5 separate regions of the Homo sapiens genome follow, and regions 2, 3, 4 and 5 are each linked to region 1. The links come from fine-mapping of genetic effects on gene expression. A gene starts in region 1. Each other region holds a variant in brackets. All regions are shown on one strand. Distances are from middle to middle.

Region 1 (4,231 bases):
ATTCTTTAGAAAGGCTGAAGAGGCCGGGCGTGGTGGCTTACGTCTGTAATCCCAGCACTTTGGGAGGCCTGGGTGGGCGGATCACCTGAGGTCAGGAGTTCGAGACCAGCCTGGCCAAAAATTAGCCTGATGTGGTGGCAGGTGCCTGTAGTCCCAGATACTTGGGAGGCTGAGGCAGGAGAATCGCTTGAACCCGGGAAGTGGAGGCTGCAGTGGGCCGAGATCACGCCACTGCACTCCAGCCTGGGTGACAGAGCAAGACTGTCGGAAAAAAAAGAAAAAAATGCTGAAGATTGGAAATCCATTCACCTCTTGGTCTCTATCGTCCACACCTTACACTGCGGCCCCAGCACTCACAGACAAAAATGTCAGCACGAACCCTGACAGTCCCAAACTCAACTCACCCGGAGGTGTATCGACAGAGAATGGATAAAGTGCGGACTAATCGTTCAATTAAAAAAAAAAAAAAAAAAAAAAAAAAAAAAAAAAAAACCTTACCAATATAAGGGCCTACAGTGGCATGTAACAAAGATATGGGTCACATAACGTGAAACAAAAGATACACATGATACAGTATTATCCTAAACAGGTATTATTCAAATAGGTAACAAGACATTGTCAGAACGCATAAAAATGGTAAAATATTAAAAAAAAAAAAAGCAAGGACATTTCTGTATGTTATGACCGTGATAATCTAAGAGGGAGGGAGAGAGTTACGAGCAGTTAGGGGAATCTTCAACTTGGTCACAGGGACACTAATTTTCTTTTTTGAGACAGATCTCACTCTGTTGCCCAGGCTGGAGTGCAGCGGTGCAATCTCGACTCACTGCAACCTCCACCTCCCGGGTTCAAGCAATTCTGTCTCAGCCTCCTGAGTGGCTGGGACTACAAGTGCTCACTACTACGCCCAGCTAATTTTTGTATTTTTAGTAGAGACAGTTTCACCATGTCGGCCAGGCTGGTCTTGAACTCCTGACCTCAAGTGGTCTGCCCGCCTTGGCCTCCCAACATGCTGGGATTACAGGTGTGAGCCACCGCGCCCAACCTATTTCTAATAATTATTCTCACCTGAATGAGATGGCTCACACCTGTAACCCCGCAATGCGAGAGGCTGAGGAGGGGGATCAAACCAGCCTGGGAAACAGAGCAAGATCCCTGCTCTTAAAAAACACGTAATTATTATTCTCTCCAATTGTATTATATGTCGTATGGGATTTTCTACATTAATGTATCCCACCGAAATATTTATTTTAAAGATAATATGTACAGGAAGAAAAAACCTATTCAGTCACTGGCAATATTATGAAGATATGCTATAACCAACATTTGCTTACTGATTTAGCAAATTTCAGAATTATGGGACAGAAGCGTTTTAAGAAGTTACTTATCAAGGACATGATAGGAAACTCCTGAGCGGTAAGGCCAGGCCGAACTCATGCCACGGACGCCCCGTGCCTCCCGGCCTGGGCCGGCAGCGCTGAACTATTACCTTATATTAAACACGGGCTCGTGGATTACCATGAACACTAAACTGCTTCGTCATTTTTTTCCCCATAAATTGAGTCATTAAAAAAACAAAACAGTTCAATTCCGGGAGGCGTCAGTTCTCTGAACACAGCGAGACTTTAAGTATGGGCTGTGGGCGCCTCGGGTCTCTTAAGGACTCGGCCTCCCAACAAAAATGAACTAGGAGCAAAGCTGTCAGCGAGAACCGCAAATGCCGACCCCATTTACTACCCCCGTTAAAGCCCACGCTAATGGAGGGCCCCGCCGGGAGCGCCGCGGGCAGGCCCGGCCCCCAGCCCGGGGCATCGCCCCTGGGAGTAGGAAGGAGCTCCGAGGTCCTCCGGCCTCGGAGCCTCGGATGCGGGAGCTCCAGGAAGGGCTCGGGGTGCGGGACGCCCACAGCTTGGGGAGCTGCCAGCCCCGGGCGCAGGGACGAGGACCCCTACGCCTCCGGCCTGCCCTGGACCCTCCCCTCCCGGGTACCAGCGCGCCGAGCGCCTCCCGTCGCAGCGTCTCACCCGCCGCTCAGCCGCCTCAGCACACACAGGCCCTGCCGCCCGCCGCAGCGCCACATTGCGCATGACGAGCACCTGGCTGGCGAGGAACCCCCTCTTAACCCGACGCAGGGCGCGGGGCGGGGCTTGCCGTGACAGCTACCACTCCTATTGGTCAACGCGAACAGCGACGTCCTCTGCGATAGGCTGTAGGTGAAAAGGGTAGGCCTCCACTGCTCTGGGACGGGCGGGAGGGCGGTGCGGACGGAGATGGGCGGGAGGGGCGGGGCCGACGTGCCGAAGGAGGCGGGCAAGGCGAGGGGCGTGGTACGGGTAGAAAGGGGCGGGGCCGTCTTGCCGAAAGGGGCGGGGTTCGGCCAGCAGCAGGATGTGGACAGATGATAGGAGGGGGAAGTGGGCAGGCGAGAAGTGGGGCGTGGCGAGAGGCGTGTGTATGCAGATGAAGTGGGGCCTGGTGAAGGGCGGGGCTGCGCTGGTGAAAAGAGGGGCTCCTGGAATGGCGTGCTGTGTTGGGTGGGGCTGTGCAAGTGATGGGAGGGGCTTAGCGAGGGGTGGCTCTTTGCAGGTGAGGAGTGGAGACCAGTGGGAGAGGGGATTGCAAGTGAGCTGAGCCTTGGGGGCGGGGCTTGCAGGTGACAGGGTGGAGCCTAGTGGGCGGGGATGCAAGTGAGCTGGGCCTTGGGGATGGGGCTTGCAGGCGATGGGGTGGAGCCTGGTGGGGCGGGGCTGCAGGTGAGCTGGGCCTTGGGGGCGGGGCTTGCATGCGAGAGGTGGGTCCTTGTGGGGGCAGGGCTGGCAGAAGTGGGTGGGGCTTGGTGATGGACCGCGGTGTTCAGGTGAGGGTAGTGGCCTGGTTGGGGGCTGCCGGAAGCTGGGCCAGGTGAAACTTGGTAGCCCTCTCTGGCCTTGGTGTGGGCGTTGGTCCTGTTTGTAGGGCTGAGCTGAGCTCCAAAGGCGTTCTGCTGCCCCGCCAGGCCTGAACCTTGGGGTCTGGGGGCTTCTTGGATGAGATCTCAAGGCTGCATGGCAGGTCCCAGGGCCAGGGCCCCACGGTGTCACACGTATCACGGATGGCCGCCAGCGAAGCACAGCACAGCTCCGAGCTGCTGCATGGGAGCCTGTGGCCCCCGCTGCTGCCTCCGCTTTCCTCTTCGTTTCGTGTCTAGGAAGATGCACCTGAGCCCCCTGACATTGCCCAAGTGCCCAAGGGCCCTTCTGGGAACCCCCAGAGAGGCTGAAGGAGGCCCCCGTAGGAGTGGGTGGTTCTGCACTGTGGGCCAGAAGGGGCCCTGGGATTAGCCACGCTTGGAGAGGGTGGGGTAGCCCTTGGAGGAAGTCCGCACCAAGTCTGACCTTCCGGGTTTCTCAGAGCCTCTCTTCCTTCCTCCCTTCACCTTCTCCCTCTTTTTTTCCCCTTGTATCACGAATACAAACAGGCTCAAATCTCCCTCTGTCTCCTAATGGGCTCTGAAAAAAAAAATTAAAAATTAAATGGTAAGTAGATGGCTGCAGTCGGCTTGAACAAGCTAAAACTTTGGAAGCAATGTGGAAGGTAATACTGTGGGAAAAAGTCCCAACGTGTCTACCCTAAACTCTCCATAGGGCAGCCAGTTCTGGGCTGCAGGTAAACACGTACCTCCTTATTGAAGAGCCCAAAGGAACCAGAACACAGGCAATAATAGGAGCGACAGACACAAACACGCTCTGCGCATCACCCGTCTTCTAGGGAGAATTTGGGTGTGTGCACACAAAATATCCGATCTAGGTCTCAATCAATTTAGAAAGTTAATTTTGCCAAGGTTAAGGGCATGCCCATGACACAGCCCCAGGAGGTCCAGATGACATGTGGCCAACATGGTCGTGGCACAACTTTTTTTTTTTTTTTTTTTTAATACCGTGTCTCACTCTGTCGCCCTGGCTGGATTGCAGTGGCGCAATCTTGGCTCAGTGCAACCTCAGCCTCCCGGGCTCAAGCGAGTCTCCTGCTTCAGCTTCCCGAGTAGCTGGGATTACAGGCACCCACCACTATGCCCAGCTAATTTTTTTTTTTTTTGTATTTTTAGTAGAGACGGGGTTTCACCATATTGGTCAGGCTGGTCTCGAACTCCTGACCTCGTGATTTGCCCGCCTCCGCCTCCCAAAGTATTGGGATTACAGGCGTGAGCCACCGCGCCTGGCCACAACTTGCTTTTATACATTTTAGGGAGATA
Region 2 (4,231 bases), 51 kb before region 1:
TGTTTTAAGACTCTGAAAATTTTTGATCTCACTCCCAGAGAGTTTTACCACCTCTTCTTCTGTGTGGCCACCAGGGGGACGTAGTGTGGCCGAGACTCCAGGGGTGCCCGTGAGCACCCGAGGCGCTGAGGAGGGCTGGGTCGCAGTCTCCTGTGATTGTACCAGCATTAAAAATCGCTGTGTGTGTGTGTGTGTGTGTGTGTGTGTGCTGAGCCTAAATTTTCTTTGAGCCTCCAATACCCATTATGATGAACCCCTGCCTTGATGCTGAGGGTAGAAATTGAACTGAATATTTTATAATTTTATTCATTGCCCTGAATGCACCATTGCATTTGTTATCTCTCTGGTCTTGGCTGTTGACCTCATTTTCCCCTTTGTAAACTGGGGATGTTAAATTACCTCTAAGGCAATAATTGGTGCTACTTTAGTTTTTTTGCCAAGAGACAATAATAAAACATAGAAATATATTCTTCTTTTTTTCTTTGTGGGACGGGGTCTTACTCTGTCACCCAGGCTTGAGTGCGGTGGTGTGATCTCAGCTCACTGCAGCCTCGACCTCCCGGGCTCAGGTGATCCTCTCACCTCAGCCTCCCGAGTACCTGGGACCACAGGCATGTGCCACCATTCCCGGCTAAAAGAAATATACACCTATTCCCATGTTTGTGTGTCACGCTTGGTAATTGATGTGGGAGTTTGAAGATCCGTACCTAACACAGAAAGCATTTCATTTTTTTAAAATTTGATGTCTAAAAGTTTGTAGTAATTCTCAAGTTTTAATTTTTCTTGTGAGACTTGGTTCTCATGAATATTTTTCAAAGATATTTTTTCTTGTAAAACCTTGGCATGAAACTTATTTCTAGCACTGGTAAATAAAAAAACAAGCTTTTAACATACAGCTCATATGGTAAGTAATGCTTAGCACTCGTTTCTTGCTTTTCTGAGCGTTTTAAACTTTCTTCACTTTCTTTGCGAAGGAAACCTGCCCAGGTTTTCCTGTGTTCACTGGCTTTGGGGGCAACTTTCACCTTATTTTTGGCAGTTGCTAATCTCTGACCTAGACGTTGCTTCTGTTCTCCTGGTGGTGGGTGTCACGGCTTTGCTGCTGCGGGGCTGGCCCGGCTCTGGACCTACCTTCGCACTGTGAATGTGAAGATGAGCCTCTTTCACAGACTGGATTCCGTCATTGCTTTCACTGCTCTTTCGCCTGCTTTAGCTAGATTTTTGGGTCTGTGAAAGTTGGGTGTGCAATGGGAGGGACTGAAGCTTCTTTTTTCCCTAATTGTTACCTAATTGGAACTCGCCCAGAGGGAACGGGTGGAGAATTTGAGAGCGGTCGCTGCAGTTAGCTGAGTTTCTTTTTAATTCCAGGGTCCTCTGCTATAAATAACTGTTTTTTTTTTTTTTTTTTCAGATTGTAAATATGTAACAAATGCATAGGGTCAAATTTATGAAAACCAAAATACGTGGGGCAAAAACACCCCACAAATGATCATTTCCACCTGCTTTTACTTCCCTTGGAGGGATTGTGTGATTTATTATGCGATTGTTTTAAATGCAGTTTTTCATTCATTCGAGTTTCTCGAAGCTAGGTTAAACAATTTCTTTTTTTTTCTTTTTTTTTTTTTTTTTTTTTTTTTTTCTTTTTTTGGAGACAGGGCCTCACTCTGTTTCCCAGGCTGGAATGCAGTGCTGCAATCGCTATTCACTGCAGCCTCGACCTCCCAGGCTTAGGTGATCCTCCCACCTCAGCCTCCTGAGTAGCTGGGACTACAGGTGGGTGCCACCGTGCCCAGCTAATTTTTTGTATTTCCATAGAGACGGGGTCTCCCTGTGTTGCCCAGGCTGGTCTCAAAACGTCTGGGCTCAAGCAATCCCCCTGTCTTGGGCTCTCAAAGCACAGGGGTTACAGGGATGAGCCACCGCGCCGGGCCTGAAGTTAACTGATTACAATGTCTGAGAAAGAACTGGAGCGTGTAGTTAGTTGAGCCTCCCGTTGGCCAGGCACAGCCACCTTGGTAAGTGC[ATG/A]TGTGTGTCCTTGTTGCCCTTCTGATCCTGAGCTCCAAGGAACAAGGCTGTCTTGGGAGTGCGGTGGTTCTAGTCTCGTGATGGGTGAGTGGCGCCGTCTGACCGAGGTCACCCTGGCGAATGCTGTGGCTGCTGGGGAGCTGGGACAGAGAAGAGAAAGCCGCTGAGGGTCCCTCTGTGGACCCTGAAGGGAGAGGGACCGATATGTGAACATGGCAGCTGTTTTCTCCAGAGCCCTGTTTACTGACGGCCGAACAGTGTGAATCCTGAGAAGGTTTGGATTTGGGTCTGAACTGGGCTCGTCTGGCCATAGAAGAACATGAGCTGGTGGCGTCCTCAGGAAATCAGGGTGTGAGGCAACTGGACGTGGATGGCTCCGGGTCCCCCCGGCCACTGTCCTGAAGCCGCCGGAGGCTGAGGACGCATGGGAGTGAGCGTCTCTTCCCTGTCCGGCCACACCCTCTGTGACTGGTGACTCATGGCATGGCCCTGGGCAGCATTTAGGTTTGAGGTCTGTAGATGGCTCCAGTATACTGGCTTCTATTGTTCAGAAAATTTGGTGATTCTCATGGGGGCAGGGGTGGTGATTTTGCCCCAGGGGATGTTTGCAACGTCCAGGGAGGTTTCTGGTTAGAAGTGGGAAAAGGGATGCTCCCAGCATCTGGGGCTGGAGACAAGGGACGCTGCGGAACGTCCCTCAGAGCACAGGGTGGGCTCCATAATAGGAGTCTGGCTCAGGATGTCGCCGTGTTGTGCTTCGGAAGCCCTGGGCGGGGCTGATGTGGTGAAGCCTCATCTTCTCTGGACACGTGCGTCCTCGTCCTCTCTCATGATTTCCTTCTTGCCAGCATTGATGCTTAGCCCCTCAGAATCTATGCGGTGCTGGTGAGTGGTCCTCCGGGCAGAGCAGAAGGAATGAGATACCTCAGAGCCGGTGTGACACGTTCTCAGGATACGGCTGCAGGGAGTTTCAGTCCGACCCTTTCATTCCTTAGCACTGGCCCATTACTCCGTCCTGTAAGCTCGATAAGGTCACATCAGAAGCACAGTAAGCTGCTGCCACGCTGCCGTCAGCTGCCGCGAAGGTGGCAGTGACCACAGCCTCGTGACTGATTCACAGCCTGGCTGCGCTTGGTCTTGAGAATTTTATGTTTTGCTGGGCAGGGTCTCCCCCGTATTGAAGCTTCCCTTCCCTTTTTTGGAGACTGAAGGAAGGAAAAGAGGAGTGATAGGGAAGAGGGGAGAGAGGATTTGCAGCATTGTGGCTGTCCCCACAGATTTCAATGTGGAGTTAAGCTGCCGAGACCCCCACCTGCCCTCCTGTGTGCCTCAGGCCCCTCCTGGTCCCAGGTCACCCACACCGTCTGGCTTCCAGCGAGCGCTTCTCGGAGAAACAGCCGGCTCCCCACAGCCAGTCTTGGTCAGTCCTGAGCTCGGGTATTCCACAGTAAAGTGAGCGACATCACCTGTCTGAAAAGCATAAGGAGACTCCCACGTGGCGGTGCTGAGGGGCCACATCCTGGGCACCAGGCCAGCCAGTGCCCCGACATGAGTGTTGCTGGCTGGGAAGCAGCTGGCATTTGGATTGAAGTCCTGCAAAAACTGCCATGGCCAGAGCCTGCCAGGCAGAGCCTGCACAGAGCGGCCCAAGAGCTGGGCACGTGCTGGGCCTGGGTGGAGGTGGAGGCTGTGCCATGGGGTGCGGGGGACCCTGCTCACAGCTCACCTTGTGGTCACCCAGCACTGACCCCGTTCACAGCTCGCCTTGTGGTCACCCAGCACTGACCCACCCGCCCCACCCTCCTATCCACCGTGCTGTGAACTCACCTGCCACGGGTCTACACCCACTGTCCGAAGCCCTCGGCCCACACGGGCTCCAGGCCTTGGGATGCTTTGCGTTGCACCAGGGCTGCAGAGCCCAGATCGCTCACTGTCCGACTCTCCCAGGGAGGTGTGGGCGCCGCCCTGTGTCCCACCAGTAGCATTTCTGCAGCAGATGTGGGGATATTCACAGTAAGACGGACACGTCCAAGACCATAAATAGTTGGTTTTGCCACCACGTGGATGTCAAAAACACCTTGCTGTGTGGGGCCACTTGGAGGTGGGAACAGTGGGCGTGTGGACCTGTCCTGCTGTGACTTTGGTTAACACCCTGAGGTGGAGTCTGAAAAACCCCGGTGTACACGGGCTCAAGAACCGCTCCCCT
Region 3 (4,231 bases), 45 kb before region 1:
AGACCTATGGTAGTTCCACAGGCCTTTGCTGCAGAGACGGTCCTCACTCAGCTGCAGACAGGACGGTGGCCACCGTGACATGTGGGGTCACGTCCGTGACTTGGCCACCTGGTGCGAGGGACCCACAGCAAAGCAGAACTGCTGGCCGGGGTAGGCCTGCATCGCGTGCGGGGACAGCAGCCACTGGCCTTTACCTTACATCTTGACGTCCAAGCCAGCTCCGGAGTTTGCAGTGAAAACTCCCAGTCCTGCTGGAGACTCCTTAGTTCAGCTTAGCACAGAACCTCGGAAGACAGCAGTTCTATTCCGGGTACTTCCTTCAGAGCTGAGTTACAGTGCAGGGAAGGGAGCAGAGGAGCCATGAGGTCGGCTGCAGCTTCCTGTGAGTCCGAGCCTCAGCCTCCCACTCGAGCTGAGGGGCGTGTCCTGGCCATCTCTCTCCTAGGCTTCTCCCTGTGTTCCCCAGTGCTGTGGTGGTCTTGCAGAGGCTGGCCCTGGCTCATTCCCAGGACTTCCTTGGGCCCCGCACTTGACCCCTGTTGGGTGAATGCCATTAGGGTCCGGCCATCGCTGGCTTCACTCTCCTTTAGCACCTTGTAGATGTCCATGCACACTTCCACCCTCGCGCCCCACACGCGACGCAGCCCTACCCTGGCCAGCAGCTGTGCTTTGCTGCGGGTTCCATGCTGTAGCAGGGACAGGACCCCCACCCCCTGTCCCGTCTGGCCACCGACTTCAGCAGAGGCTCGGCTGCCGTGAGGGATACCAGTCATGGGAAAACTGGCCTCCCTGCAGATTCACAGAGCAAGGTGGTTCTCACAGAGAAGTCAGTGGCTTTTTTCTACGTTAATGCTGTAGCAAACGCCACCTTTTCTTTCACCACCAATTTATATTTCTTAACACCCATGGAGCAAAGTGTGGTGATGTTTGAACTGTAGCCTGGGGCTCTCGCTCCCATGGGACTCCTCGGGGAATTTCTCAGCAGCAGGATCGCCTCTGCGTCCTTGCAGGGGGTGGCGTCTGCTGGGGGCACATCCCATCGTGCAGGGGGAACGGCTGAGGTCACAGGCTTTGCCTGACAAGTGCCACTCACAGCTGCTGTCCACGTGCCAGCCCTGGGACACAGCCCTCTGCCATCCTTCCACCCACTCGGAGGCCAGGGAGGCACCTCCGTGCCACACTGCAGGCAGGCAGGGCCGCGCTTGGGATCTGCCGCCTTCTTGTCAGTGCTGCTTTGACTAATTGCCTGAGGCACGGCCGGAGTGACTTGCTATTTTTAGAAGCTAATTCAGGCTTCAGATGCCATCTAGGTAATGAGGAGAGAGTTCAGGAAAGCTGTATCTAAGCTCCAGCAAAGGCGGCCTCTTCCGTACCAGCTGTCGCTGCGTTTACACTGAGACGAGCACACAGTCGGGGGCGTGGCTCAGGTGTCAGGGCTGCGCTGTTCCACAGCCCCCTGGGGCAGCCTGGCGGGACCAGAACTCAGACACGCCTGGGCACAAATCAGCCTCTTGGGAGAGCTGCTTTGCCCGCAGAATTCTTTTGCCATTAAGCGGTTGATGTCATTCTTTGAATGAGTGACAGTAATTCCCCACCTCAGGGTGGGCTGCGGGGGAGATTCAGTTGGAAAAGTAACCCATGAGGTTTTGTGCCTCTGGGGGTCCTGAGGCCCCACCCGTGCCTGGGATTCTCTAAGACAAAGGA[G/C]AAGTCTTAAAGCCTTACAGCGTCTTAAGTCTTAGATCACATTTAGAGAGACCCGGTACAGGTGGAACAGTGCAACCCTCAGAATTCTGCACTGGCCCTTCAAGAAGGCAGTTGTGGGCTCTTTGGACCCTTGACGGGGATCTGTCCTCTGTCCTCCTAAGCACAAAGATGGGAATTCTTCCCATTGCCTGTTTCTCTCCCCATCTCGGCTTCTACACAATGCAAAGTGGCCCGCTAACTAGAGTCCGTGTTCAGTTTTGAATACATCAACCAATTATTTTGGGAAGAAAAGAATCTGCCAAAGAAACTGGAAATACAGTTTGGAATCATTTAATCAAGCCTGCATTTATTAATCAAAGTGCACTTTTAGATTTCATCCGAAGTGCTCAAGTGAACATTTCCCAATGGGTGTTAAACTTGGGTGCACAGACTCTCACGTGGCTCCTAGTCTCAAGTCCACACCCCCACTTCATGCTCTTACTCTTGGCTGAGTCCCATGGAGGCCCATTAGGGAATCCTGCAGGATCAGCCGTTGACCAGGACGGACGGACGGCTGGCTGGGGAATACCATGCTTATGTCATTCAGAGACAAGCATTTCTTGAGCGCCTGCTGTGGGGGCTCGGCCGGGTGCTGCTGATGGTGCACTGGTGTAAGCCCAGCCCACAGTTCCTGTCCTCATGGAATTTGCAGCCTAGTGAGGAAGATCCTCCCAAGTCAAATAACCACAAGGTAACTGCAGGGAGAGACACCGGGATAATTTCTGTGAAGAGAGGACATGGGGTGGCTCCGAGAGCCCCTGACAGAGGGAACTTTGTGGTCCTAGAAACCAGGTGGTGTTTTCCTGAGGAAATGACATTTTCCTCTGGATCAGAGCTGAGGAAGGTGCCTCTGTGTGTCCCGTGGCCGCTGTGACACTGACCACACACCTGGGGCTGGAAAATAATACTCTCTCCCACAGCTCTGGAGCGCAGGAGCCATGGGCTGAGGCCAGAATGTTTGCTCCAGGAGCGTCCCTCGTGGCCCGTTCAGGTGCCCAGAGTTGCGGGCCTTGCACGCCTTGTACGCCTTGTTCCCTGGCGCCTCCTCCTTCCATGTGGGTGTGCAGCATCCCGCTCCAGGGCCTTCAGCCTCTGCGCCCCTCATCTGCTGATGCAGGTGATGGCATTTAAGGCCCACCTGGGTACTCCTAGGATTCACCTTTATCACCGCATGAGGGAGCATTCCCAGGTTCCAGGGATTAGGGATAGGACTGGGATTCCTTTGGGGGCTGCTCTCCCGCCCACCACTGTGCCGGAATGTGATGCACACAGCGGCCAGCATATCCAAAGGCCCCAGGAGGACCTGGGGTGGCTGGAACAGGACCTGGTGCCGGGAGCAGGCGGGGCCGGGGATTCCCGACAAAGGCTTGATGTGTACTTGAAGTGAGCAAAGGGTTTTGAATAAACCAAGAACTGGATCAGATTTATGTTTTTTATAGATGGGGTCCTTTCTGTGTGAACGGATTGGAGGGTCCCGGGGTGGGAGCTGAGGCCCAGGAAGAGGGCGTTGCAGCCGGACTGATGTATGGGTGGGAAGGCGGCCGATGCATTTCTTTGCCATTTTTCTCCCCGCCGAGCTTGGGTCCTCATGGAGGGCGGATGGCAGACATTTCACTCTGGGATCCGATGCCTGTGCATCTGGAAGACTTCCCCAGGTGCCTGGGTCTAAGAACCACCATCTGCCTTTGAGTAGAGTTTCCATAAATGTAACATTCGCCAATGGATGGAAGATGGCCGCACCTCTAAAATCACAGGGAGCTTTTCAGAAGAAAATAGAATAGCACAGCGGTTCTCACGGACTAAGCTGGCAGGGGACAGTCCCCTAACATCTCAGCTAACACCTAACGGTGTCTGTGTCCGGTGAAAGCGGCTTCAGCAGGGACAGTCACAGAGCAGCGTGGAGTGAGCTGGCTTGTGGGGTCGTCTTTTCCGTCCCCTTCTATGGGGCCTGGGAGAAGGGAGCGGCAGATGGCCAGGCCCCCAAAACGGGACATCGAGGTCACCTCCAGGTGGCTGCCATGGTGGGGTTGCGGGGGACCACGTTCACACCCACTCCGAGGGCACATCCTGGCTGCTGCACACCCTTCACCTCTGCGGGATGCTGGGACCGCATGTTTGGGCGCGGTGGGGGGGCCTTGCTGCACTCACTCTTGGGGGAGCTCTGGGATGGTGGGCGCGCCCCGGGCCTGGGCTGGAGTGACTGATCGCTTCTCTGTGACCAGACCTGCGACCGCATCAAGCAGTCCGCCAGCGGAACCAAGCGGCGCGTGTTCATCATCGAGACCATGGGCGGCTACTGTGGCTACCTGGCCAACATGGGGGGGCTCGCGGCCGGAGCTGATGCCGCATACATTTTCGAAGAGCCCTTCGACATCAGGGATCTGCAGGTATGTGACGGGGCTGGCCTCAGGGCCCGTCCCCTTGGGATCCACTGGGTGCTGCGGAGTGAATCATCGTGTCTAGGGTGGTTTGCTTTCCAAGGGGCATG
Region 4 (4,150 bases), 56 kb before region 1:
CTCAGGGGACACTCATCCCAGGTGGAGGGAAAGGATGCTCTGGAGCTGATGCTCACAGGGGCGGGGGCTCCAAGCCCGCACAGGGCAGTGAGGATGGGAACTGCAGGGGCAGGGCCGGCTTCTTTGTGGGCAGCCTGAGGAGGTTGGCTTTTATGTTATGTGAGATTCGAAGGTCCTGAGCAGGGACTGGCCCACACCAAGAGCTTTCTAAAGGGACCCGCTGCTGTTCACTGAGGCAGGAGGCAGGGCTCCCAGCCGGGGCTTTGCAGTCACCTAGCAAGAGATGGTGGGTCCAGACTGGCTACTGTGCAGATGGCGAGAAACCTTCAAGGGTCTGGAGGTATGGAGGGCACGGAGGGCAGATGGGGTTTGCTTGCTAAGTACACGCAGGCATAAACAGAGGAGGCAAGGATCACTCCATTCCTGGCCTGAGCACATGGAAAGGGTAGAGTTGCAATTTATGAGGACTAGGAAGCCCTGAGACACACTTCTTGCAGGTAGGATGAGGAGCGGAGACTCATGAGGCCAGGGTGAAAGTGTGTGTCCCACGGCCGAGGACAGGACTGGGGATGCTGGGGTGAAAGTGTGTGTCCCACGGCGGAGGACAGGACTGGGGATGCTGGGGTGAAAGTGTGTGTCCCACGGCGGAGGACAGGACTGGGGATGCTGGAGTGAAGGTGTGTGTCCCGCAGCTGAGAACAGGACTGGGGATGCCGGGGTGAAGGTGTGTGTCCCGCCATGGAGGACAGGACTGGGGATGCCGGGGTGAAGGTGTGTGTCCCGCCATGGAGGACAGGACTGGGGATGCTGGGGTGAAGGTGTGTGTCCCACAGCTGAGGATAGGATTGGGGATGCCAGGGTGAAGGTGTGTGTCCCTCAGCTGAGGACAGGACTGGGGATGCCAGGGTGAAGGTGTGTGTCCCGTGGCCAAGAATGTGCAGTAAGCCGCTGTGTCCCAGCATCTTCAGGAGGGTTTGGCTGAGCTCATGGGTTTAGGAATCTTCAGCGTCTCCACGTAGTTAAAGATGCAGAACTCACAGAGCTTCCCTGAGGGCCTGAGTGCAGGCAGGAGAGAGAGAAGGTCCAGGACTGATTCCTCAGGGCGCCATTGTTAAGAGTAGGGTGGGAAGAGGAAACCCCAGCCCAGGAGACTGAGGAGTGGCAGAGAGGTGGGGTGGAGATGCCCTGTGGCATCCCTGGGAACACAGATGATCCACCTTCCACCACCACTGCCCGCCCTTCTGTGTTGGCCCATCCACCCGCATCTCAGCAGCAGGAACCGGATGAGGAACCGTTCTGTCCTGGGTGGATCTTGCTTTCCCCGTCTTTCTTGTTCAGACTTGTGAAGATTAATTGGCTTAAAACTGGTATTTGCTTTATTTAAAAAATATTGCCTTCAAAACTGATTTATGTGGGAAAAAAAAGCCTGATTTATATGGTTCTGTCAAATATATATATATATACATACACACCTTGTACAGTATTTACCTTTTGATGTAGAATGATCTTTTTTCTAATGTAATTTACCTGGAGATCCCCCTGCAGCATGGCAGTGTGTCCACCACATCCGTGAACTTACCCAGAATCTCGTGACCGGAAGCTGCGGAGCTGGGGTTCGAGCCCCACGGGTTCTCCTCCTGCAGTCCTGCCGTCCTCGCAGTGGCATCCTCTTTCTGCGATTACCTTAGTTTGCTTAGTAATCTGTTTTCCTTTTTTCTCCCTAGTTTGTAAGAAAAGAAATTTTCCCTTAATCTTTTACCAACTTAGAAACCATCATGTTACTTTTCTTTTAGTTGCCGGTGGCGGGATACGGTGAGCTGATGTATCTCACACGTGGCTCAGGATGAGACACAGA[G/A]GCCCCGACAGGCAGGGAGAACGCAGCCCCTCTGCTGCTCTTCATGAGTTGTTAACCTTGGACTTCTGCTTCTCACCTTGATTCATCCGGGCATCGTGATAAATGCTGTCTCATACGCCTCTCAAATCTTTACCGGAATGCAGCTTGTTGAAAAGTACAGAAAGCTATTTTTAGCACTTTGCAACTTGCCTTTCATTGTTCACTTTAGCTGTTTCGTTCTGTGTTTGCACATTAGATCAAAGAAATCGGCTGGACAGATGTCGGGGGCTGGACCGGCCAAGGAGGCTCCATTCTTGGGACAAAACGGTAACTTCCAAATCTCAACTCTATGACCTGCTTTTAAGGAAGAAGGAAGAGCCGTGTTCTGGGAGAGAATCGCTGGGTGCCGACGCCAGTTGGATTCCTGGAAAGGCGTCCCTAAGGGAGGGGTGCAGGCAGTTACCGGTCCTCCCTCCAGTGGAACTGCCCGTGTTCCAGGGAGCTGGGGATGTGTCCCAGGGCGTAAGAGAGAAGAGGAGGTAACTTGTGAATGCCTTCCTCTAATTCATATTTCCATTCATTTGAAAAGCCAGCTGGCGAGCCTAAAGCCTCCACTTGGAGGTCATAAAGATGAGTGGTGTCACGGAGCCGTGGAGATGGCACTCTAAGCAAACCCTAAAGCAGCCTGGATAGCAGGTAGCATTGGTGGGAAGCATAGCCCTGAGCAGCTGTGACTCGAGGCTCAGATTTCCACAGCCGAGGAAAGGACCCAAGGAATTCTAGTCTAAAAATCTCTTTTTCAGACCTACAGTAAGCCTGGCGTCCCTGCATCCCTGGGGACAATGGGATTTCCTAATGTAGATGAAGCCTGAGTAATTCTCACCTTTGATCATGTCAGAGGTGCGAATATTAATCTCTGTCATCACTACACATTACAATTTCACATGGAAGGAAGGTAGTTTTTGGCAAATATAATAAATGATGGATTCCATGTAATTCCGGCTTATTGTTCCAAGGGAGTTAGCTGCACCCTTTGCTTTGCTTTACAGCCAGGACCCTGGTACTCCCAGCCACTGGTGGGATGGTGGGAGCCTCGGAGCTGGGTTAGCTCTACAGCTGCCTCCCGGCTGTTCTCATGAGCTCTGTGTGTGGGTGCCCTGGACGGTAAAGCTCTAGGTAGAGGCAGATGCATCCCTCGGTGTGCGTTCTGGGGCTGAGGACTGGCTGCTGACACCCCGGGCACAGGTGCTTGATAGGGCCAGGGCGTTGCTCTCGAACGTAGAGAGGACTCGCTGGCTGTTGTGGGCTCGTCCTGAAGAGGCTTAAGAAACCTCACCTTAGGGGCCAGCACAGGTTTGCACTTAGCTGCATTCACTTGTCTGCTCTGATTGCCTGGCCTGAACGTTTTTGCCCTACGGTGTCTTATAAATCTACCAAGAGTACAAGTACTTCACTTCTTCCAATCAACATGAAACCTTTGGATGGGCTTGGGATGGGATCCAGGGAGGGGCACAGTCTGGTGTTGCACTTGTTAGCCCTGTCATGTGACATTGGTGAGAGCATGGGGGAGGGAGAGCAGGTATGAGCAGATGGGATTTTAAATGAGATCAATAGTGGATAATGCATATGTAAGTTATTTGGAAACTGGAAATTTCCATTTAAACAATTATTGGGCACGGCGGCTCACACCTGTAACCCCAGCACTCTGGGAGGCTGAGGCAGGTGGATCAGGAGGTCAAGAGATGGAGACCATCCTGGCCAACATGGTGAAACCCTGTCTCTACTAAAAATGCAAAAAATTAGCCGGGCGTGGTGGCGGGCGCCTGTAGTCCCAGCTACTCGGGAGGCTGAGGCACGAGAATCACTTGAACCCGGGAGGCGGAGCTTGCAGTGAGCTGAGATTACGCCACTACACTCCAGCCTGGTAACAAAGTGAGACTCCATCTTGGAAAAAAAAAATTGTTATTAATTATAACTTCTTAATTTTATTTTTTCTAATGGGGCAGTAGAGTTCTTTTTAGGTCAAGGTATGAGCTGAAATGCTTTATTCCATTTTCTCATGAAAACACTGTTTTGAGATGAGATTCCTGGTCATTCTGCCATCTGCCAGCCACAACGGCATGAGTGAAAAGGCAGACGTTTACCGCTCCTTAATTAAAACCACAGACTGGGGAAGGCGGCCGGGTGGGGACCGGCGTGGCGTCCTGCGGACCGCGTGGAGTTTGGGGTGTCTGACATCGTTCTCCACGTGGCTATTTTCAGCGTTCTCCCGGGGAAGTACTTGGAAGAGATCGCCACACAGATGCGCACGCACAG
Region 5 (4,231 bases), 20 kb before region 1:
AAAGTACCACGGAACAAAAGGTGCCATGGAATGAAACGTGTCACGGAACAAAACGTGCCAAGGAACGAAATGCCAGGACACGGCAGGGGGATAAACCTGGTCTCCAACTTCCTTTCAACTCAGCACTCAGCTTTCTGGGGGCTCTCGTCCCTCTGCTTCCTCTATGCTGATGGCAGGGTAAACATTAGGAAAAAGGGCTCTGAGGACGCCTCGATTTTTAAAACTGCGCTTCACACAGTCACAGCGTAACCCAAATCCTCATTTGATTCTAGAAGCAGGAAATCAGAGCGCCCTATCAAACCCCTCTCAGGAACACACACACACACGGGCTCTTACTGAGTGAAGGAGTCTATCACCACCGAGAGTTAAGAACAAGGCAGAAGAATCGTGTAGAGCGAGACTATGAACGCACAGGGCTGCTCAAGTGTTTCAGGGAAAACCTCCAAGACATGACTCTACTGCTTCTGTGAGGAGTGACATTTAATTCCCCCAAGGAACCCGAGACCCGGGAAAAGCGTAGCGTTCACAGTGACCTGTCAGGACCACGTCCAACTCTGTGACAGGTATGGTGGGTTCAATATCGGAAACTTTCAACGCTGGCAGACAAGAGGCATCTTGAGGTTTGCTTTGTTGACTCCGTAATTCTAGACCTAAAAAAGAAACAAGAAAAAGGAATATTCAGGGCCATAATTAAAAGGTTTGATGCAACTTGTCTCCTATGTTATTATCTTAACATCCAGAATTAGCCGTCCACGCCAAGTGTGGGGAGTACAGGAGCACTGTGGTTTGCAAAGTATCTCCTATTTCCAGGCTGACCATATTTAGACGCACTAATAACCTGCTTAGTGGGTAGCCCTTTTCCTAATTCTCATTTTCAATTATTAAGGAATTCTGCTAGGAAGTGGTGGTTTGCTCAAGCAGCTTCTCCTGCACCCCTCCAAAGTTTACATTAAATAGATTCAACTTGTTTTTAGAGTTTTCAAACCATTTCTTGATGGACTGAAATTTAGTGATCTTTATACTTATCTTCTTTTTGTTTTGAGACAGGGTCTGGCTCTGTCACCCAGGCTGGAGTACAGTGGCACCATCTCAGCTCACTGCAGCCTCTGCCTCCTGGGCTCAAGTGATCCTTCTGCCTTAGCCTCCTACGTGGCTGGGACTAGGGGTGCAGACCACCATACCTGGCTGATTTCTGTTTATTTTTATTTTTTTTTTGTAGAGACGAGGTTTTGCCATGTTGCCCAGGCTGTCTCAAACTCTTGACCTCAAGTGATCCTCCCACCTTGGCCTCCCAAAGTGCTGGGATTCCAGGCATGAGTCACTGCACCTGGCCCTATACTTGTTTTCTATTGTTTCATTTTCACTAATTTCAGCAAAAGACTTACACAAGCACATAAATCACACAAATTACAGTGGTGCTTAGAAAGACACTTCCTGGGCCTGACAGTGCATGCATCAATGAGGGAGGCAGCACCTTCACAGCAGACTCCTCCACTGAGCCACAGCCCATGTGGAGAATCCAGAAGACCCAGGCGTGCTCCCCGCCCTGATGGCCATCAGTGAAGCGGCTTCACAGTGCTACACCGAGCCAAGCAAGTATACAAATGCATGATTCCACGACTCCCGGGGAGGGCTGTGCCCAGTTCCCACTTTAACTCAGTCCCCGCAGACAGCACTCCTGGTGTCTGCTGGGCTGACCTCCCCCATGTTCCATTTCCACCTTCTGAAGTTCCCCGAGAGCGTGCCACGCACTTAGACACGGGACCTTGGGGCGCAGTGAGCATCTCAGGCAGTGTCATCCCTCCACAGGTGCCCCACTGTGGGCTCCAGCCCTTCTGTCCACCTCTGGAGCCGCAACTGCCATCAATAACCACCCCTGCTCCCAGCAGCATGTGGAGCCCAGGCTCCCAATGGCAC[G/A]GAGCTCAGACCTGGGCTCTGCAGGCTTCCCCTGCCTGCTTGCCACCTACCTAACATCCTGACTTTCCCGACCTCACGCCACTCGGAGATTTTCTAATCTGTGGCTTTGCCACAAAGCTCCCTCCTGCCTCTTCCCTGACCCGGTTTCCCCCGTGGTCCCTGGGCCCACCTGCGCTAGAGCACGCCACAGCTACCCTGACATCCAGGGCTCCTTCTCTGAATGCACTCACTCACAGTTGGTAGAAAAAGCCTCTGGCACTTTCTCTTCTCTGTTTTCTTTCAGCACATCACACACTCCCTGATGGTGGAGGCTTTACCCCTTCACAGTGCTTAAGACACACACAAGACCAGAAATCGGAAGATTCAAGCTTTTACTACATAGTTTCCCATTCCCCTTTTCTGCATTGTTGTTCTCTACAGATTGGCTTTTAATTCACAGAACCCTAACACTGCCATGCACACTTGAAGACTTACTGACCTGAAATAACCATTCAATGCACTAGCACTGTGCCCTCCTTTCAAAGAGCTACACAGCGAGTGTGTAAAGGAGAAATCTGTAGTGTGAGCACTGCTCATTAACCTACTGGTTTGGACTACAGTATACGGGGTTTTCTTAAAGCACAGCTCTGAGGCCAGGCCACGAATATGAAGTAATTTAGGAAACGTACAACCTGTTGCCTACTCATGGAATTATCTTGTGTAGTCATGAATAATTTCAATTAAAAGCGGGAAGATTGGAGCTTGTCACAAAACAGAGCTTAATAAGGGGGGAAAAAGAGTAAGGTTAAAAAATAGAGCTTAAAACAGTTGTCTCTAGTCTCCACTAAAAATACAAAAAATCAGCTGGGCGTGGTGGTGGGCATCTGTAGTCTCAGCTACTTGGGAGGCTGAGGCGAGAAAATGACGTGAATCCGGGAGGGGGAGCTTGCAGTGAGCCGAGATCGTGCCACTGCACTCCAGCCTGGGTGACAAGGCGAGACTCCGTCTCAAAAAAAAAACCAAAAAAACAACAAAAAAAAACCAGTTGTCTCTAAACAAGAATTCAGATAGCAAGAGTAAGAGCAGGTTACAAACTGACATTAATTTTTCTTTTACATGATGTAACTTCAAACTTAGCATGATCAAAATGGAGTCACTTACTTTCCACCTAACGTCCACTCTTACCTCCTGACAAGCCTGACAATTTCTCACAGAATCCCAGCCCAATTAGCTTTTTTAATAGGAAAAGTAAGTGCATGTGTGTATGTGTTGCATCTATTTTTAAAAGACTTAATACATAACTTACAAGCAATAATATTCACAATTTTAAAGACTCAACTGAGTTCTGACAACTGTGGCAAGCTATGAAGCCACCACATCATAGTACTGGGCCTTTCTAGCACCCCAAAACTCTCCCATCCCCACTGCAGTCAACCACACCCCGACTGGGCCTCCAGCAGCTTCTCATCTGCTCTCTGTCCCTGCAGCTTTGCCACATCTAGGCTTCCCATGAATGGCCTCAGGATGTCATCTGGCACCCGGCTTCTTTCCCTTTGTGGGAAGCTTCGAGATGCACCAATACCAAGCGTGCATCATTGTTGCGCTCCTTCACAGCTAGTGGCATTTCTTTGTAAGGATGTATATGTTGATGGAAATCTGGGTTGTTTCAAGCTTTGTGCGGACGCCTGTTTTCATTTCTCTTGAAGGAACGTTAGGAGCGGGGCTTTCCTGGTCCGTGCATGTTGGCTGGCACTGTGAGAACTGTGACCCCGTTTCCTAGGTGGCCACACCATTTTGGCTCCTTTGGCAGCATGTGAGCATTCCCCCTGCCTCTCAGGATTGATGGCATTTGGTGCTGGCAGTAATTTTTAAAATGTTAGTCATTCTAGTAGGTGTATAATTGTATATCACTGTAGTTTTAATCTGCATTTTTCTAATAATTATGATACATTTCCCTAAGAAAGTAATGAGATTATTTCCCATGTAATGATTTATGTGCCTATTTGCCATTAGGAACTCTTAGATGATATCTGTCAAAATCTTTTACCCATGTGTTAATTGGGTTGTGTGTTCTCATTACTGAATTGTTCGTTTTTCGTATATTCTGAATACAGGCCTTTATCAGACACCATTTTTGCAAATGTTTTTTCCCAGAGGCCAAACTACCTTTGAGAATCCATTTGGGTCCCCTTCTCTCCCGTGGCCTCCTCCCTTCCTTCGTTCCACCCGGCTGCTCCCCCAGCGGCTGCCAATCCCCGTCTCACTTTTCTTTTCACTCCCACCATCCTGGCCTAGGTCGTCATGTCATGCTTAGGTGTCTAATTGCCTCTCAGCA

Evidence for each region. PIP is the estimated chance that this variant, and not a neighbour inherited with it, causes the effect.
Region 2: its variant is the best candidate, but not a certain one, in a credible set for the expression of PITRM1 in unexposed skin (GTEx, PIP 0.87).
Region 3: its variant is the best candidate, but not a certain one, in a credible set for the expression of PITRM1 in tibial nerve (GTEx, PIP 0.54).
Region 4: its variant is the best candidate, but not a certain one, in a credible set for the expression of PITRM1 in prefrontal cortex (ROSMAP, PIP 0.51).
Region 5: its variant is the best candidate, but not a certain one, in a credible set for the expression of PITRM1 in B cells (Schmiedel 2018, PIP 0.87).

What each region holds. Positions count from the first base shown.
Region 1 is chr10:3,170,693-3,174,923 of GRCh38, forward strand. PITRM1 (pitrilysin metallopeptidase 1) reads right to left here and starts at 2,090. Exons shown (of 27, transcript NM_014889.4): 1 at 2,025-2,090. The coding sequence starts at 2,080. RefSeq lists silencers at 1,615-2,454, 2,745-2,904 and an enhancer at 3,103-3,640.
Region 2 is chr10:3,120,192-3,124,422 of GRCh38, forward strand. All of the region lies in intron 16 of PFKP (phosphofructokinase, platelet), which reads left to right. Among named protein-coding and RNA genes, the nearest start is that of SNORD142, 12 kb to the right of the region's middle. The variant ATG/A (reference allele first, on the strand shown) is at 2,024.
Region 3 is chr10:3,125,854-3,130,084 of GRCh38, forward strand. PFKP (phosphofructokinase, platelet) reads left to right here. Exons shown (of 22, transcript NM_002627.5): 17 at 3,966-4,130. Among named protein-coding and RNA genes, the nearest start is that of SNORD142, 6.1 kb to the right of the region's middle. RefSeq lists an enhancer at 3,362-3,875. The variant G/C (reference allele first, on the strand shown) is at 1,705.
Region 4 is chr10:3,114,686-3,118,835 of GRCh38, forward strand. It overlaps PFKP (phosphofructokinase, platelet), which reads left to right. Exons shown (of 22, transcript NM_002627.5): 14 at 2,091-2,161; 15 at 4,097-4,150. Among named protein-coding and RNA genes, the nearest start is that of SNORD142, 17 kb to the right of the region's middle. The variant G/A (reference allele first, on the strand shown) is at 1,856.
Region 5 is chr10:3,150,714-3,154,944 of GRCh38, forward strand. It overlaps PITRM1 (pitrilysin metallopeptidase 1), which reads right to left. Exons shown (of 27, transcript NM_014889.4): 15 at 534-650. Among named protein-coding and RNA genes, the nearest start is that of PITRM1-AS1, 11 kb to the left of the region's middle. The variant G/A (reference allele first, on the strand shown) is at 1,918.